Linked DNA regions of Homo sapiens. The protein of the gene in region 1 interacts with the protein of each later gene in a biochemical or structural test. Each region holds a gene or a part of one and is shown in the gene's direction. Other genes may lie near its edges.

Evidence for each region.
Region 2: of the proteins of USP28 (region 1) and STAM, one has a biochemical effect on the other in vitro, tested with the Homo sapiens proteins (one large-scale study listed by BioGRID).
Region 3: of the proteins of USP28 (region 1) and OTUB2, one has a biochemical effect on the other in vitro, tested with the Homo sapiens proteins (one large-scale study listed by BioGRID).
Region 4: of the proteins of USP28 (region 1) and SENP8, one has a biochemical effect on the other in vitro, tested with the Homo sapiens proteins (one large-scale study listed by BioGRID).
Region 5: of the proteins of USP28 (region 1) and JOSD1, one has a biochemical effect on the other in vitro, tested with the Homo sapiens proteins (one large-scale study listed by BioGRID).

The regions. Positions count from the first base shown.
Region 1 is NC_000011.10:113,865,573-113,869,099, reverse strand, and holds part of USP28 (ubiquitin carboxyl-terminal hydrolase 28), read left to right. Parts: intron 1-3,527. UniProt on the Homo sapiens protein: Deubiquitinase involved in DNA damage response checkpoint and MYC proto-oncogene stability. Involved in DNA damage induced apoptosis by specifically deubiquitinating proteins of the DNA damage pathway such as CLSPN.
Region 2 is NC_000010.11:17,713,630-17,717,156, forward strand, and holds the end of STAM (signal transducing adapter molecule 1), read left to right. Parts: exon of another isoform or gene 1-913; coding exon 914-1,151; 3' UTR 1,152-3,195; downstream 3,196-3,527. UniProt on the Homo sapiens protein: Involved in intracellular signal transduction mediated by cytokines and growth factors. Upon IL-2 and GM-CSL stimulation, it plays a role in signaling leading to DNA synthesis and MYC induction. May also play a role in T-cell development.
Region 3 is NC_000014.9:94,043,340-94,046,384, forward strand, and holds part of OTUB2 (ubiquitin thioesterase OTUB2), read left to right. Parts: intron 1-631; coding exon 632-716; intron 717-1,246; coding exon 1,247-1,441; intron 1,442-2,376; coding exon 2,377-2,583; 3' UTR 2,584-3,045. UniProt on the Homo sapiens protein: Hydrolase that can remove conjugated ubiquitin from proteins in vitro and may therefore play an important regulatory role at the level of protein turnover by preventing degradation.
Region 4 is NC_000015.10:72,138,876-72,142,402, forward strand, and holds part of SENP8 (sentrin-specific protease 8), read left to right. Parts: intron 1-436; exon of another isoform or gene 437-560; intron 561-701; 5' UTR 702-748; coding exon 749-1,387; 3' UTR 1,388-3,527. UniProt on the Homo sapiens protein: Protease that catalyzes two essential functions in the NEDD8 pathway: processing of full-length NEDD8 to its mature form and deconjugation of NEDD8 from targeted proteins such as cullins or p53.
Region 5 is NC_000022.11:38,687,990-38,690,966, reverse strand, and holds part of JOSD1 (josephin-1), read left to right. Parts: intron 1-1,542; coding exon 1,543-1,671; intron 1,672-1,837; coding exon 1,838-2,032; intron 2,033-2,965; coding exon 2,966-2,977.

The DNA.
Region 1 (3,527 bases):
AGGCTGGTCTCAAACTTATGAACCAAGTCATCCTGCCTCAGCCTCCAAAAGTGCTGGGATTACAGGCATGAGCCACCGTGCCTGACCTCAGATGTTAGTATGCCTTATAAGGGCCTCATATGAGATTTATTTTATTTATTCCTTTTCTTTCTTTTGTCTTTTTTTTTTTTTTTTGAGACATGGTCTTACTCTGTCACCTAGGCTGGAGTAGTGCAGTGGCTCTATCATGGCTCACTGCAGCCTCAACCTCCTGGGCCCAAGCAATTCTCCTACCTCAGCCTACAGAGTAGCTGGAACTACAGACATGTGCCACCATGCCTAGCTAATATTTTTAGTTTTTGTAGAGATGGGGGGTCTCTTTATGTTGCCCAGGCTGGTTTTGAACTCCCGCGCTCCAGTGATCCTCCCGCCTGAGCCTCCCAAAGTTTTGGGATTACAGGCGTGAACCATGGTACCTATCTCTTTTTTTCTTTATTCGTATGAGATTTTAAACTGAAGTCTGTTTGCTTCTATCTTACAGATGAGAAATGCAGCTTATGACCATGATTGAATTATAAGTAGCAGAGCTGTGACTTCAAGCCATTCTGACTTGAAGCATAACATTTCTCCGACTTTAGTACAAGCCTTTCTAAAACCAAAGTTTCTGACTTACCACTTGACTATGTAGCACTTTAATAATTTTAATAACTTTTCATTGAACCCTCATAGGCACTCTATGAAATAAAATTTAGTATGAGCAGGAAGTAGAATTTGCAAAGTGACACAGCAAGTAAGTGATAAAACCAAAACTATAACACAGGATATCAGTATTTTTACTGTAAACTCTAGAGGAGTTTAGTTGAACAGGCAAGTCCCAGTATTTTTCATTTCTATTGCATTTCTTCATTTTGCTAACAATTTATTTGCAGTACTTCCTTTGATAGTCATACAGGGCTGTCAAAGCTTTTGGTGTACTTCATTTTCCATTCTGGAAACTGATGCTGAGGAAGATTGAGATTTGCCAGGAGGCTGATGTGTGCTGGAGTCTGGGCTGCATGGCACTATTTCCAGCGTCTAGGCTTTCTACGTAAAACAGGGGTCAAAATATCAGACACACAAAACCAAACTAAAGATCTGCCTCAGTAAGTACCAGCTGCATGCTACATGATGGCTGGTAGGCACTTTAACCCTAAGAAGATTTTCTAAACAACATTTTCTTTTTCAATCTTCTTGCCCAAGTTAGTACTTTCTTGTGTCCCCTCCCTCCCTCCCTTCCTCCCTTTCTTCCTCCCTCCCTTCCTCCCTCCCTCCCTCCCCCCTTCCTTCTTTCCTTTTGTGTGGGGATGTGTATACAGGTTTCCTTATTCATTTGTTTTTTCATAGAGTTGGGGTCTAGCTATGTTGCTCAGGCTGGAGTGCAGTGGCTATTCACAGGCATGATCGTGGTGTACTACTGTTTGAAAATCCTGGGCACAAGTGATCATTCTGCCTCAGCCTGCTGCAGAGCTGGAACTACAGGTGTGTGCCACTGCACCCAGGTGATTTTTTTTTTTTCAATTGAGGCAAAATTTATATAACATAAAATTATTTTAAAGTGGGGCTGGGTGAGGTGGCTCACTGAGGTCAGGAATTCAAGACCAGCCTGGCCAACATGGTGAAGCCCCGTCTCTACTAAAAAATATAAAAATTAGCCAGATGTGGTGGTGAGCACCTGTAATTCCAGCTACTTGGGAGGCTGAGGCAGGAGAATCACTTGAACCCGGGAGGCAGCGGTTGCAGTGAGCGGAGATCATGCCACTGCACTCTAGCCTGAGTGACAAGAGTAAAACTCTGTCTCCAAAAAAAAAAAGTTCAAGTGTACAAGTTCAGTGACATTTAATATATTCACAATATTGTGCAATCACCAATTCCGTCTAGTTCTAAAACATTTTCATTACCCTGAAAGAAAACTTTGTAACCATTAAGCAGTCACTCCCTATTCCCCCATGCCCTCCACCCCTGGCAATACCAATCTACTTTCTGTCTCTAGATTTACGTATTAGAGAGATTTCATGTAAATGGATCATGCAATATGTGACCTATTATGTGTGGCATCTGTCGTTTATTGTAATGTTTTTGAGATTTGTTCAAGTTGTAGCATGTATGAGTTTTTCATTTTAATCACTGAGTAATATTCCACTGTATGTATAGATATGTTTTGCCTGTCCATTCTTCCATTGACGGACATTTGAGTTATTTACACCTTTTGGTTATTATGAATAGTTCTGTTATGAATTTTCATATACTTGTATTTGAGTACCTGTTTTCCCTTCTTTTGGGTATATACCTAGAAGGAATTGTTGACTCATATGGTAATTCTATGTTTAACTTCTTGAGGAACTGCCAGACTGTTTTCCAAGGTTGCTGGGGAAGTTTTATATTCCCACCAGCAATACACAAGGGTTCTAGTTTTTCTCTTTTCTCATCAAACACTTGTTATTTTTTGTTTTTGTTAGATAACAGTCATCCTAATGGGTGTGAAGTGGCATCTCATCATGATTTTGATTTGGCCATGTTAATGTTATGGCTAATGTTAAGTGTCTTCATAAACTTATTGACTATTTATATATCTTCTTTGGAGAAATATCTTTTTAAGTTCTTTGTCCATTTTTGAATTGGGTTGTCTCGTTTTTTGGTTGTTGACTTAAAGGGAGTTCAAAGAGAGTTTTTTATATCATCCAGATGCTAGACTCTTACCAGATAAATGATTTAAAAGTATTTTCTCCCATTGTCTTTTCACTTTCTTGATAATTTGTACACTGTGTATTTCTTTTTTCTTTTTTTTTCCCCAAGACAGAGTCTGGCTCTGTCACCTAGGCTGGAGTGCAGTGGTCTGATCTCGGCTCACTGCAACCTCTGCCTCCTGGGTTCAAGTGATTCTCTTGCTTCAGCCTCCCAGGAAGCTGGGATTACAGGCGCGTGCCAACACACCTGGCTAATATTTGTATTTTTAGTGGAGATGGTTTCACCATGTTGGCCAGGCTGGTCTTGAACTCCTGACCTTAGGTGATCCACATTGGCCTCCCGGAGTGCTCGGATTACAGGCATGAGCCACCGTGCCCGGCCAGCACTGTATATTTCTTGTTGGATTTCTTGATGTATGTGTTTATTTCTTGAATTTGTATACCGGTTGTCTTTTCACTTTCTTGATAATGCCCTTTGATGCAGAAAAGTACATCAGCCCACTTCAGTGTCCCAAGTAGCTGGGACTACAGGTACACACCACCATGCCTGGCTCAAAAGTGTTATTATTTTTTTCTTTTGTTGCTTGTGCTTTTGGTGTCATAGCTGAGAATCCATTGACAAATCCAAGGTCATGAAGACTTATCTCTGTGTTCTAAGAATTTTATAGTTTTAGTTATTTATTTAGGTTGTTGATCCATTTTGAGGAATTTTTGTGTATTGTGTGAGGTAGGGGTCCAGTGTGATTCTTCTGCTGTGGATATCCAGTTGTACCAATACCATTTGTTGAAGACATGATTTTTCCCCCATCAAATGGTGTTGGCACT
Region 2 (3,527 bases), on another chromosome or scaffold:
TTCATTATCATATTTTGAAGGCATTATCTTCAAAATCTATCTAGACTCTGACCCTTTCTCCCATCTCCACCATTACTGCCGTGGCTCTTCTGCTGGTCGGCTCTCTCCTGGTGGATCGTAATAACCTGCAGTCAGCTATCCTGGTCCAGAGGGAGCCCGTTAAACCCTGTGGAATCTTATCACGCTTCTGCTCAGAACGAGCCAGTGTCTTTCTGTCTCACTCAGAGTGTAAGCTACAGTCCTTATTGTGGCCATCAGGTGCTGTGTGTTCTCCAGCCCCCTCCCCACCACCGCAGTCCTGCCGGTGATCTTAGCTGCTCTCCCCTCGGCACCCCCTGCGGCCCCCTCTGCCGCAGCACTCGTGGCCTGCTGTTCCTTGAACATGCTTGGTGTTTTCTCTCCTCAAAGGCTTCTTTCTGTTTACCTGAAATGTACTTTCCTAGGGAATCTATCTGGCTCACTCGCTTACTTTTTCCACATCTTTGCTTAAGTATTGCCTTATTGGAGAGGCACCCTACCATAAACTAGAATCCCTTGCCCCAGCTGCTCTTTGTCCTCCGTATTGGGCTTTGTTTTTGTTCTTACCAGTTAGAACCACTTGACACACGATACATGTGTTTGTTACCCTTTTCTACCACTAGAACAGACGCTCCATGGTGGTATAGACTTATTTCCGCAAACCACCCCCCCCAACTTTTTTTACACAATGGTTAAATAACACACATATTTTTAATGCAATGCCTGATATCACAAAGCCTAAAATAACAATGTTTGGCACATTATAGCTGTTTAGTAAAAGGTTATTAAATGAATTGACTATATGAATGAATGCTTAGTAAATAGCTTTTCCATTTATCTGTAGTTGCTCTATAAATCAGTATTGATGTAATTGAGTGTTTTTCTTCCTCCACAGTACAATGGTCAGTTCCGTTCAAGGAAACACATATCCCAGCCAGGCGCCAGTATATAGTCCTCCTCCTGCCGCTACTGCTGCTGCTGCAACTGCCGATGTCACTCTGTACCAGAATGCAGGACCTAATATGCCCCAGGTGCCAAACTATAACTTAACATCATCAACTCTGCCTCAGCCCGGAGGCAGCCAACAGCCACCTCAGCCACAGCAACCATATTCTCAGAAGGCTCTGCTATAGGACCCGGTGTTCCTCTTGGTGGCAGATACCTGCTAAATGCCACTGACAATGTTATGAGATTCATTACTATCTTAAGATGTGTTTATCCTCAGCTTATAGGAATCTCTCCAGGTCAACAGGTTCAAATATTCAAGAAGGTAGAACTCTCCTCAATTTACACTGACTTTTTAGAGGTTCTTCCCCCCCCGCCCCTGCAGAGGAATGAAACTACTTACAACATTTAATTCCTTTCATAATATGAAAGAATTGATACAAGGCTATTTGTCTCGTAAACCTGGTCTGCAGAAAGTCAAACTTACAAAAACTGTTGTGACAAATGTTATGTACATATATTGATATGTAACTGCATTAGTGGCCATTTTGAATCACAGTGGTGATCGTGTGAATATATTTAACACTGTGTTAAATTAATTTACGTTGCTATTTTATTTTAATCATAAACAACTACCATGTTTCTTAATGTTTTGTGTAAATTTAAGGTAATTATACTATCCTTTTAAACTTCAAGAAAACAAAGTTGTTAGCGTATTTACATGAAGGCGCATTATGTTGTCGTGTGTTTCAGTTTCACATTAAACTGAACCTTTTACTAATTGTGAGCTAAAGAGATATATATATATATGTGTGTGTATATATATATATCTACATGTCTTTCTGTAGCCTCTGCATACTACTGGCTGTCATCACACCAGCGTACAGTAGCTAAATTTTTGGTGCAATTATAGCAAATGATAATGTTCCCTTTTGAACTTTTACATTTTGGCATGACATTTCAGAGTATTGTGGGACCATGAGACAAAATTAAGTACGATCACATTCTTTATTTCTCATTTTAAAGAAATGATGTTGGTTTACCTTTTCCTAGTTGAAGATAGTAATTAGGTTTCTAAGCTGTATACTGTGTTTATTGGTGGCAGTGACACCAAAGATAGAGGCAATGGATAGAAATTTTTAAACTGGAAAGAAAACCTGAATTACACTACATTTTCGAAGTCTCTTGTAATTATTTGGGATATCAACAAAATTTGATTCGTCTGTCTAATCCCTTGCTAGTATTTTAAATATGTCTTTAACACATTGTATCCTTTAATTCTTCATTAAAATGGAAATAAGTAGATGTTTCAAAGTAATCTACATTCCTGGCTTTGCTTAACGTTTATATAGGTATTGTTTTCTTTCACACTGGATTTTTGGGTTGCTCTTTCTGGCCTTTTAAAATTCTAATGGAATTATTTTGGCTTCTTACTTGGGAATATTTTCAAATGAATGCTTTTCTTTTAATTCATGCGAAAAATGTTTTCCACTGACATTGTAATCTTAAATATTTACGATTTCCCTGGTTGGGCTATACTATTATTTTAGCACTATTTAAACAACGGAAAAGTTGAGTCGAACATCATATTTAATGAATTGATGTAACAGGTTTCATACTATAAATGAAAATTTCATTTTTATTTTCTAAGACTGTTGTAATCAGGTAGCTTGTTTATTTTCTTTTTGAGAGAAGATTAAATCTTTAGCCAGTAATCTTAAGGGTGACTAATTTCACAGACTCAGATTTAAAGCACCGTAGTTTTAAATCTGAGCCTGTGAAATTAGTCACCTGTAAGATTACTTAAGGGTAACTTAAGTGTTTCGCTCAAGTGTTGTGTTCTGATTTCCTGTGTTTAAAATATGTTGCCCTGCCCTGAAGTCAAATTTCACATTTTAAATACTATAAGTTAGTTTTTGATAAATATCTGTCGGATTATAATCTTTTCCACTCCAATTTGAGTATTATGGTTTAACTGATATACTTTTCTGCAATTTTTCTTTGTCTTTTGATAAATTCCTGTTTACCAATGTTAAATGTATCATTTTCCCATTTTAATTTTGATATCTTTCATGCTGAAAATCAATGACATAGTCTCTACTATGATTTTTGCCCTATAAAAGTCAAGTAACAGTGAATAGAAAAAACTACCCTTATTACAACCCATATACATTTTTCTTTACCTTTTACATTACTAGCCTTATAAAGGTTTAAATGATGAGTACTTTAAAACTGTTACTGTGTTAGTTTATGCCTTCCCATTATTAAAAATGAAAATACCAGGGGGAAAAAATCCAATGAAAGTGAAGCACTGGCTTGTCTTTCAAATGACAAGACGAGGGTAGAAATAGGAGGGGGCCAGTTAGGATCATGAATGACTTTAAGTTCTGAAACCTGCAGGTCTTGCACTTTCAAGAAATCTTTCATTAATAGCTGTCCTTATTTTGAAGGAATAGAATAATTTATAAAATGAACTAGCTGTAACATAGGCTGGACGCAGTGGGTCACACCTGTAATCCCAGCACTTTGGGAGGCCGTGGCGGGCGGATCATTTGAGGTCAGGA
Region 3 (3,045 bases), on another chromosome or scaffold:
GGCAGCCCTTCCTCCATACCTCGTTGCTGCCACTAAACTTGGGAGTGTCCTGGAGCCAGGGCCAGGCCCAGGCCTGGGTTTCTTGCCATACCCCCTGAGGGCACCAGGACAGGTCCCAGAAAGGGGCTGCGCCATGAGGGGGCCTGCAGTAGGTGCAGAGAGTAACAACCCAGCATGCGCAGAGCAAGGGCCTGTGGAGTGGGTCCCCAAGGGTAACTTGGTGCTGGCAGATGCTTAACAGCCGGCTGTGGGCGTGCGGGAGGCCTGATGTGTGTTGTCAGCCGATTGCTGTGGTGTCAGTATTCAATATTATCATGACTGAGTCAAGCTGCCCTCATGAGGTCACTGAGTAGGGAGTTGGAAAAGATGCAAAATCACACACGCCCTTGTCGTATCGTCTTTCCACCATGCACACACACACAATGCAGCTCAGCCACCAGGGCCCGGCAGGGCCAGGGTGGAGATGTGCACGGTGCATGTGGCTGTGTGTTGGGGGCAGGGGCGGGAGGTTCTGCGGCTGGACTAGAGATGAGGTTGGTGGGCGCAGTGGGTTGAGAGGGGGACGCACAGTTGCCAATCACAGCACTCTCGCTGTGTTTCCCTGTAAACACTCAGTCTTCCCCCTCTGTAGGTTCAAAGAACGCGTACTGCAGACCCCAAATGACCTTCTGGCTGCTGGCTTTGAGGAGCACAAGTTCAGAAACTTCTTCAATGCTGTGAGTTCACCTGGTCCCTCCTTCCACACTGGCAGAGCAGACAGGAGTGGGCACTGGCTGGAGCCCCTACACAGCCCACAGCTCTGCTCCTCCTGGCTGGGGAAGGACAGAGGGTTCCTTCCTGCTTGTGGGGGTGTGTGGGCACAGGGAGCCCTCACCCTATTCCCTCACCCTATTCCATCTCCACCTCATGCCTCCCTATCCAATTAGTGAAGGGGCGGGATCGAGGACTCTCAGACGCTTGCCACTCTGAGTGTGCACGTGAGAATCCAAACCCAGGTAGTCATGGTGGGGAGACCCAACTGCCGCTCCCAAACATGCCTCTGGACTAGTGTACAAACTGCAAAGTCTTGCTAACCCTGGGTTACTTAGCTTAGGCAGAATCTCAGACTGATTTTCTAACTCAACCTGAGAATCTACAAATGAAAATGCACGTGAGGGCTTCACGCGAAGGGAGGGAGCGGAGGGAGAATGCAGAGGGAGGGCTGGGGCTTGCTTGGCCTCCCTAGCTGAGGGCCGGGCGGGCGCAGTTTTACAGTGTGGTGGAACTGGTAGAGAAGGATGGCTCAGTGTCCAGCCTGCTGAAGGTGTTCAACGACCAGAGTGCCTCGGACCACATCGTGCAGTTCCTGCGCCTGCTCACGTCGGCCTTCATCAGGAACCGAGCAGACTTCTTCCGGCACTTCATTGATGAGGAGATGGACATCAAAGACTTCTGCACTCACGTAGGTGCTTGGGGTCTCAGCCCCAGCCCTGGGCTCTGCTCCTGTGGCCCTGTCCTGCAGACTTCAGCACCCATCCGTAGCCAAGGGACTCGGGTGTCACGACTGCCCTTGCAATTCAAACAGAGCTAGGTCAGCAAGCTGCAGACAGGTCCCACCTGAGCTGCCTGAGCTGTGTGGCCTGAGGCAAGTCACTTCCCCTCTCTGGAGATTTCCCATCTGAAAAATAAGGGATTTGGACTGGCCTGTTTACAAAACCACAGTCATAGTCCAAGAGTCACATTTGCTTGACGTGTTTATGATGCATGGTATTTACCAGAAAGAGTTGCCGATATTTAAAAATTAGGCACTTTTCATATGAATATTTGGATTTCTGCTGGAAAGTAAGAAGTACAGCCCCCAGGTCCTTGCTCTTGCAGGGCAGTCTCAGCAGGCACTAAGCAGCAGCTGCCCTCTCTATGTAGGACATACGCCTGCTTGCCACCGCCTCTGCTTCTTCCATCGTCTCTGCAGCACCCGGACTCGCACCCTCACTCACCAGCCTAGCCTCTGTAAACACTTAAGCTTGAAAGGCACCCCTGGATGACAGGGTGCCTTTTATCTCTAAGATTCTTTGATGCCCAACCTGAAAAATGTCTGCCCCCCGTTTCCAGATCCCTCTAAATTAGTAGCCTGCTGTCAGGTGTAACTACAAGGTCTAGAATGGAAAAGATTCAGGTTCGATTCTTGCAATTGTAGCGATTTCTAGCTATGCTGCCTCTCAATGAGGCTGTTTCCCGTGTGGCATGAGAACGTCCATACCCAACTCATGGGATGTTGTGAAGATGACGTCCCAGCACAGAGGCTGTGACCATGACCCTGAGAGCCAGAGCTGAACTCACTTGTCCTCTGCCAGGCCTCCCTCCTAAGCTGGCTTGTTTTCATTTTGGCCCCTGCAGGAAGTAGAGCCCATGGCCACGGAGTGTGACCACATCCAGATCACGGCGTTGTCGCAGGCCCTGAGCATTGCCCTGCAAGTGGAGTACGTGGACGAGATGGATACCGCCCTGAACCACCACGTGTTCCCTGAGGCCGCCACCCCTTCCGTTTACCTGCTCTATAAAACATCCCACTACAACATCCTTTATGCAGCCGATAAACATTGATTAATTTTAGGCCATGCAGTGGAACCTGTCACCTAATGGGACTGCATTCTGAATGGAACATTCCGGCTCTTCAATTTTTTAAGCAATTTAGACTGTAGCAAGAAAATGTGCAGCCTTTTGGGCAAAGCCCCTGGGAACGAGGCCTATCCACTATGGACTATGGTAACTTGGTAGGATTTTTAGTATTTATTTTAATGGAGGGACAAATGCTTTCTAACTGGGCCCCCGACTCCGCACCCCAGTTCGCAGTGAGGCCCTGGGTGGGTCACCTGCCCTCTCTGGACTTGTTTCTTCAACTGGAGGAGGTCCCTGCCTATGCTGACATTCCATTGTAGAAAAATGGGGCCTCTGGTGTCTCTTTACCAGGGGCAGTGCCTCTCTGCGGGGGAGGAAAAGCTCAAGGTTAGCTGTCTTAACCCAAGTGACTTACCAGGCCTACAAAAGAGTCCAGTCCAGTCACTT
Region 4 (3,527 bases), on another chromosome or scaffold:
AATCGCTTCAACCCAGGAGGCAGAGGTTGCAGTGAGCTGAGATCGTGCCACTGCACTCCAATCTGGGCGACAGAGTGTGACTCCATCTCAAAAAAAAAAAAAAAAAAAAACTTTACTACCAATAACATAGCCAATTAACAATAACATAGCCAATTAATACATGTTTTGTAAATGTATTATATACTGCATAATATATACCTTACCAATAACATAGCCAATTAACACGTTTTGTAAATGTATTATATACATTTACAAATAACCTTACCAATAACATAGCCAATTAACACGTTACCTTACCAATAACATAGCCTTACCAATAACATAGCCAGTTAACACATGTTTTTTAATGTATTATAAACTGCATTCTTACGAAAAAGTAAGCTAGGGGAAAATATTAAGAAAATCATAAAAGAAAATATATTTACTATTCATTAAGTGGAAATGGATCGTCATAAAGGTCTTCATCCTCATCATCATGTTGAGTAGGCTGAAGAGGAGGAGGAAAAGGAGCAATTGGTCTTGCTGTCTCAGGGGTGGCAGAGGCAAAAGAAAATCCATGTGTAAGTAGATCTGCACAGATCAAACCCACCTTGTCCAAGGGTCAACTGTGTATTTTTTTACCACAACCCTATAAAAGTAACTACTATTTTCCAGCCGCATTTTACAGTCAGGTATTTATTGACAATAATATTGTCTTCTAGCTCTTGTTCAGCTTCTGGAATTTCTGAGCAGCCCTCGTCAGTACAAGATGGACCCCGTAGTCTTGAGTTACATGGACAGTCTACTGCGGCAATCAGATGTCTCACTATTGGATCCGCCAAGCTGGCTCAATGACCATATTATTGGGTTTGCGTTTGAGTACTTTGCCAACAGTCAGTTTCATGACTGCTCTGATCACGTCAGTTTCATCAGCCCTGAAGTCACCCAGTTCATCAAGTGCACTAGCAACCCAGCAGAGATTGCCATGTTCCTTGAACCACTGGACCTCCCCAACAAGAGAGTTGTATTTTTAGCCATCAATGATAACTCCAACCAGGCAGCTGGAGGAACCCACTGGAGTTTATTGGTCTACCTCCAAGATAAAAATAGCTTTTTTCATTATGATTCCCATAGCAGGAGCAACTCAGTTCACGCAAAGCAGGTAGCAGAGAAACTGGAGGCTTTCTTAGGCAGAAAAGGAGACAAACTGGCCTTTGTGGAAGAGAAAGCCCCTGCCCAACAAAACAGCTATGACTGTGGGATGTACGTGATATGTAACACTGAGGCCTTGTGTCAGAACTTCTTTAGGCAACAGACAGAATCACTGCTGCAGCTACTCACCCCTGCATACATCACAAAGAAGAGGGGAGAATGGAAAGATCTCATTACCACACTTGCTAAAAAGTAGCTATTGAAGTATATTTGCGACTTTTGAAGGCTCCTCTTTCTGCCCTTCCCCATTTGTTGGATGGCTGCAATCTCAGTGCCTGAGGGAAGATGCCTAGTAGAGGAAAGCTTAATACTCTTTTTCCTGAAAGAATATCATCCTCTGCATTATCCCCATGGAACGTTTCACTTTAACCCTGACTGGGGAGCAATATGTTCTGTGAAAATATCTTGAAATTGTACACCAAAACCTTACAACCAACTTATTTGAACATTTATTACACACAGGGTTTACGTAAGACTTTTCTTATTGGTATATAATTAATTTCCTTTGGTCTCCCTTATCCACATTGGCTTATTCTGGAGGAAAAGCAGTGATCTGTAAAACAAATCAAGAATATATTAAATCTAGAGGAATGCAGAGAAGAAAACTATAAAACAGAACCAAAAACTTGTTGCACAGCCTACATAATTAAGAGATCAACTGGCTGGAAGCAGATCAAGGCCTAACTTCATTCAAGACCTAAATATTATGAGACTCAGTTATTCGGTTTTATGTGACATCTCTTCCATTCACCATGCACAGGCTTTTCCAGCTATCTATATAATGTTTGCAAATATTTGATAAAGATGATGTTACCCTATCTTCCTCCATCTGATTCCTGGAATGCTTGAAGAAAGGGGAAATCTTGAGTAACCTCATTAAAATTAATGTCTGGTGGACCTCTCAGTTTGCTCACTGATTGGGTAGACTTGCTACTCTGGATTAATAACTGCTTTTCTCTGCCTTGTCTATTAGCCATGCACACACTTCCTCCTTATATCCAAAGTTCTTTGGTTCTAAAATTCATAGTTGATACCTTCCCAAGGTTACCTGTTGTTTCAGATAAACATTTGTTCTTCCTGATAGTTATAGGTTTTCCTCTCTGTCCTTAATTCTGGCAGAATTGTTTTTAGTTATGTCATGGTAATTTCAGGATGATTTTTGTATCTGAAACTTAACAGACTTAGAGTTGGTTTGTTTTTTAAATATAAAGGAAGAAAAGTGACCTTTCTCAGCCCTTTTACTTAATTAAAAATGCAGGGAATGTAATTTGTAAAATGTGGAACCAAGAGTAGAACGAAATACTATCCCTCCAGAAGCACTGATGTGTTTCAGTTGTTTCAAATAGTAAACAACCAGATGACATGTTAGGTACACAAATTAATTCTATTCCTAATGAGAATTAGATTGCAAGGCCTATGAGACTTGAAAACCAAAGATGAGCTTCAGCCATGAAACTTATTTCAGCTACCTCCCCAGCCTAACCCTGCCCCCAGCCCTCATGGCCCAAAATAACCTCACCACTCAGTGACCACAGAGAAAGTAACTTGGTTCCTTTTAGCCGAGAAGGGAAAACACAGTAAGGGTAAATAAGTACAGGTTACATAGCAGGCCTGAGTGAGCAGGAGCTGAAACTAAAAGTCAAAGAGAAAGCTATCAAAAAAAGTTTCCATTTCAAGTCGGTACATTTTGGATAAAAACCAGTCCTAATGGAAGATGGGGCTAGGAAAAAGATTAGGAACTGGCAGTCATCCATAGAGGTGAAATACAGAGGGAGGGACAGCAAGAGAAGTGACAAAGGTCACTGATGATAGGCCACAAGTGTAGATAAAGATAAGAAAACAATGTTATTTCAGTGACTGTTGACTTAGGCAGCTAATCTAGACTATTAAAGTCAAATCCTCTCTGGGAAAAGTTATCTTTCTGACAATGCAAAGTATGTTTATTTAAATATCAGAGTATCTTCAATCTGAGAATTAAAGCATATGAAAGCAATCTTTCCTAACTCCCTACGATTCATCTTATAAGTAAATTTATAAGTAAATTTTTAAACTACACTAGTCTTTTAAATATATATAGAAAAATATATATACACACGTATAGACATGTATATGTAATCTATCTACATATATATAAAAAATGCATTTTCCAAATGCATTAGCCTGATTGGACTGTGCCACAGATTAGTGTCCTCCTATGAAATTTTGAGTATGTCATTTGTAAATGTTAGCATTATAAATTGCAGGAGAATTTAAGAATTGACTTGTATTTCACTGGATACTATAGTACCCGGTAAGTTACACACCTGCTTGACCACATACCATTCATGTTACATGAC
Region 5 (2,977 bases), on another chromosome or scaffold:
CTCACTGCAGCCTCTGCCTCCTACGTTCAAGCAGTTAGCTGCCTCAGTCTCCTGAGTAGTTGAGACTACAGGCGTGCACCACCACGCCTGGCTAATTTTTGTATTTTTAGTAGAGACGGGGTTTCACCATGTTACCCAGGCTGGTCTTGAACTCCTGACCTCAAGTGATCTGCCCACCTCAGCCTCCCAGAGTGCCGGAATTACAAGCATGAGCCACCGCGCCTGGCCAGGAGTATGTTTTATATTTGAAAAATACCAGTATTGCTGAGTTCAGTGGCTCACACCTGTAATCCCAGCACTTTGGGAGGCTGAGGCGGGTGGATCACAAGGTTAGGAGTTCGAGACCAACCAGCCTGGCCAACGTAGTGAAACCCCATCTCAACTAAAAATACAAAAATTAGGTGGGCGTGGTGGCGGGTGCCTGTAATCCCAGCTACTTGGGAGGCTAAGGCAAGAGAATCACTTGAACGCAGGAGACGGAGGTTGCAGTGGGCTGAGATCGCGCCATCACACTCCAGCCTGGGCGACAGAGCAAGACTCCGACTCAAAAAAAAAAGAAAGAAAAAAAATACCAGTATTTCTGCTGTGCACAGAAAAATTTTAAAAATACAAGATTTCTTAAGTTTTTTAGAGTTGACATCCTTGGCCTAACGTCTTGATTCTTTTCTGGAGATGGCATGTAGTAGCCTCTTGATCATGCACTTTATGTCCTGAGGAACTCGCCACACTTCCCTTTCTCCCCTTCACACGAAGCCCAAAGGTATGCCCCTTGAACCCTTCCTTCAAAATGGCCTTTCCCCAGCTCCTGGCCTGACAAGTTTATGAAGGTAAAATAATAGAATTAGAAATGCCTTCAGCATGGACCTTGTCTTAAAATACAGACTGGCTAAAGAAACCTGGAAGTAAATGGCTTCAAGCTGGGTGGGCAAACCAGTGCTGCAGCTGAGTTTTGTTTGCCTGGCACAAATTTTTTTTCAGTTGATTTATTGGGTATTTTAAGAAAAATTTATTCAAGTACTACACACACACACACACACACACACACACACACACAGAATGCCTTTAGGTGGGTCGTGCATTCCAGTAGGCCTCACTACTTTTTATTGCCTTATATCCAACCCCAGTTTATACATTTATGTCACCTGTCTAGGCTCCTGTATGCCTTTGAGTATTTAATGATTAATGATTACCAAGTTTGCAGGCCTTAACTAGAAAGCAGGAGTGACACCAGTTACTATCCATGCAAATGAAAAGATTGAATCCTATTTTCCAATGTTAAAAAAAAAAAAGGCTTGCATGAGGCAGGAAAATCAGTATCAGGAGGAAGAGCAGAAAGGCTGCAGGAGGCTGGGATTTCATAAGTGAGTCACCTTCATGGAACACTTACAAAATACTTAGGTAGAAGCTGGGGAAATTGCACTTGAATGTGGGGAAACTAACTTCCAGGGGCAGTGATGTAAAGTGCTCTCCATCCCTGGTAGTGCGGGGTCAGGGGGTTCAGGCATCCAGCAAGTCTCAGCCCTCCTCTTTTCACATTGGTAGGTTGTCTCCAAACACCATGGTGACACCTCACAAGAAGAGCATGCTGGGAAATGGCAACTACGATGTGAATGTCATTATGGCAGCACTTCAGACCAAAGGCTATGAAGCTGTTTGGTGGGACAAGCGCAGGTAATCTGAATCAGGCTTGACTTGATGGAGAACAGCACGGTTGTGGTATAAGCTTTTAGTACTTGGGCTCATGGCATGAGTGGGGAGGTAGCCAGTTGTGGTATTACAGCCAGGGAACCTTGGAAAATGGGCTGCATCAGAGCCTGCCACCATTTCTCCCCTGCAGGGATGTCGGTGTCATTGCCCTCACTAACGTCATGGGCTTCATCATGAATCTGCCCTCCAGCCTATGCTGGGGTCCACTGAAACTGCCCCTCAAAAGGCAGCACTGGATCTGTGTTCGAGAGGTGGGAGGGGCCTACTACAACCTCGACTCCAAACTCAAGATGCCCGAGTGGATTGGAGGCGAGAGCGAGCTCAGGTAATCGGCACCTTTTGTGACTAAGTTGCTAGGCTGCTTCATTTCTTAGGTTGGGGACACTGAGCTCATCTCTGGTTATTTGACAAAGGAAATGAAATTCCTGTGCCCTTGGATTCTCTCCCTGCCTTAGAATCATAGTGTCTCGGACCTGACCTTAATCTTCAATGGCGCATCAGTACTTTTAAGTCCTTTTGGTAGGGAAGATGCCCAGCCTGGGATACCAGCCTTCTAGTCTGGTGGGGCTGGCATTGTAACGTTCTCTCTATTTAAGACAACTGAGACAGTGTAGTTGCCAGTTCATAGAAAGGAAGACAAACATGCAGGCCAGGGAGCACTGAATTTCCCCAGGACCAAAGAACATTTGTAAAAGTTCTTTAGAGGCGATTGCTCACGCCTGTAATCTCAGCACTTTGGGAGGCCAAGGCGGGTGGATCACCTGAGGTCAGGAGTTCGAGACCAGCCTGACCAACACGGTGAAACTCTGTCTCTACTAAAAATACAAAAATTAGCCAGGCGTGGTGGCGGACGCCTGTAATCCCAGCTGGTCAGGAGGCTGAGGCAGGAGAATCACTTGAACCTGGGAGGCAGAGGTTGCAGTGAGCCGAGATCATGCCATTGCACTCCAGCCCAGGCGACAAGAGCGAAACTCCGTCTCCAAACAAACCAAGAAAAAGTCCTTTATATACTTTGGGTACTGTTATTCACAGATCCAGCTACTCTTGGCAGTAACTACAAGGATGAGCAAAATTCAGGTTGGAATTTTAACTGGACAGATTGGAGGGTAACCAAATGTGGAACCCTCCAAAACCAGATGACTACAGGGATGTGTTTTGGACTGCCGAGGGTAGAGTGAGGTTTCAGGTGACTTTGTGGTCCTGAGACTGGAATTTGCAACTTGCCAGCATTTCATTTTCTCTATCTCTTTTTCCATAGGAAGTTTCTAAA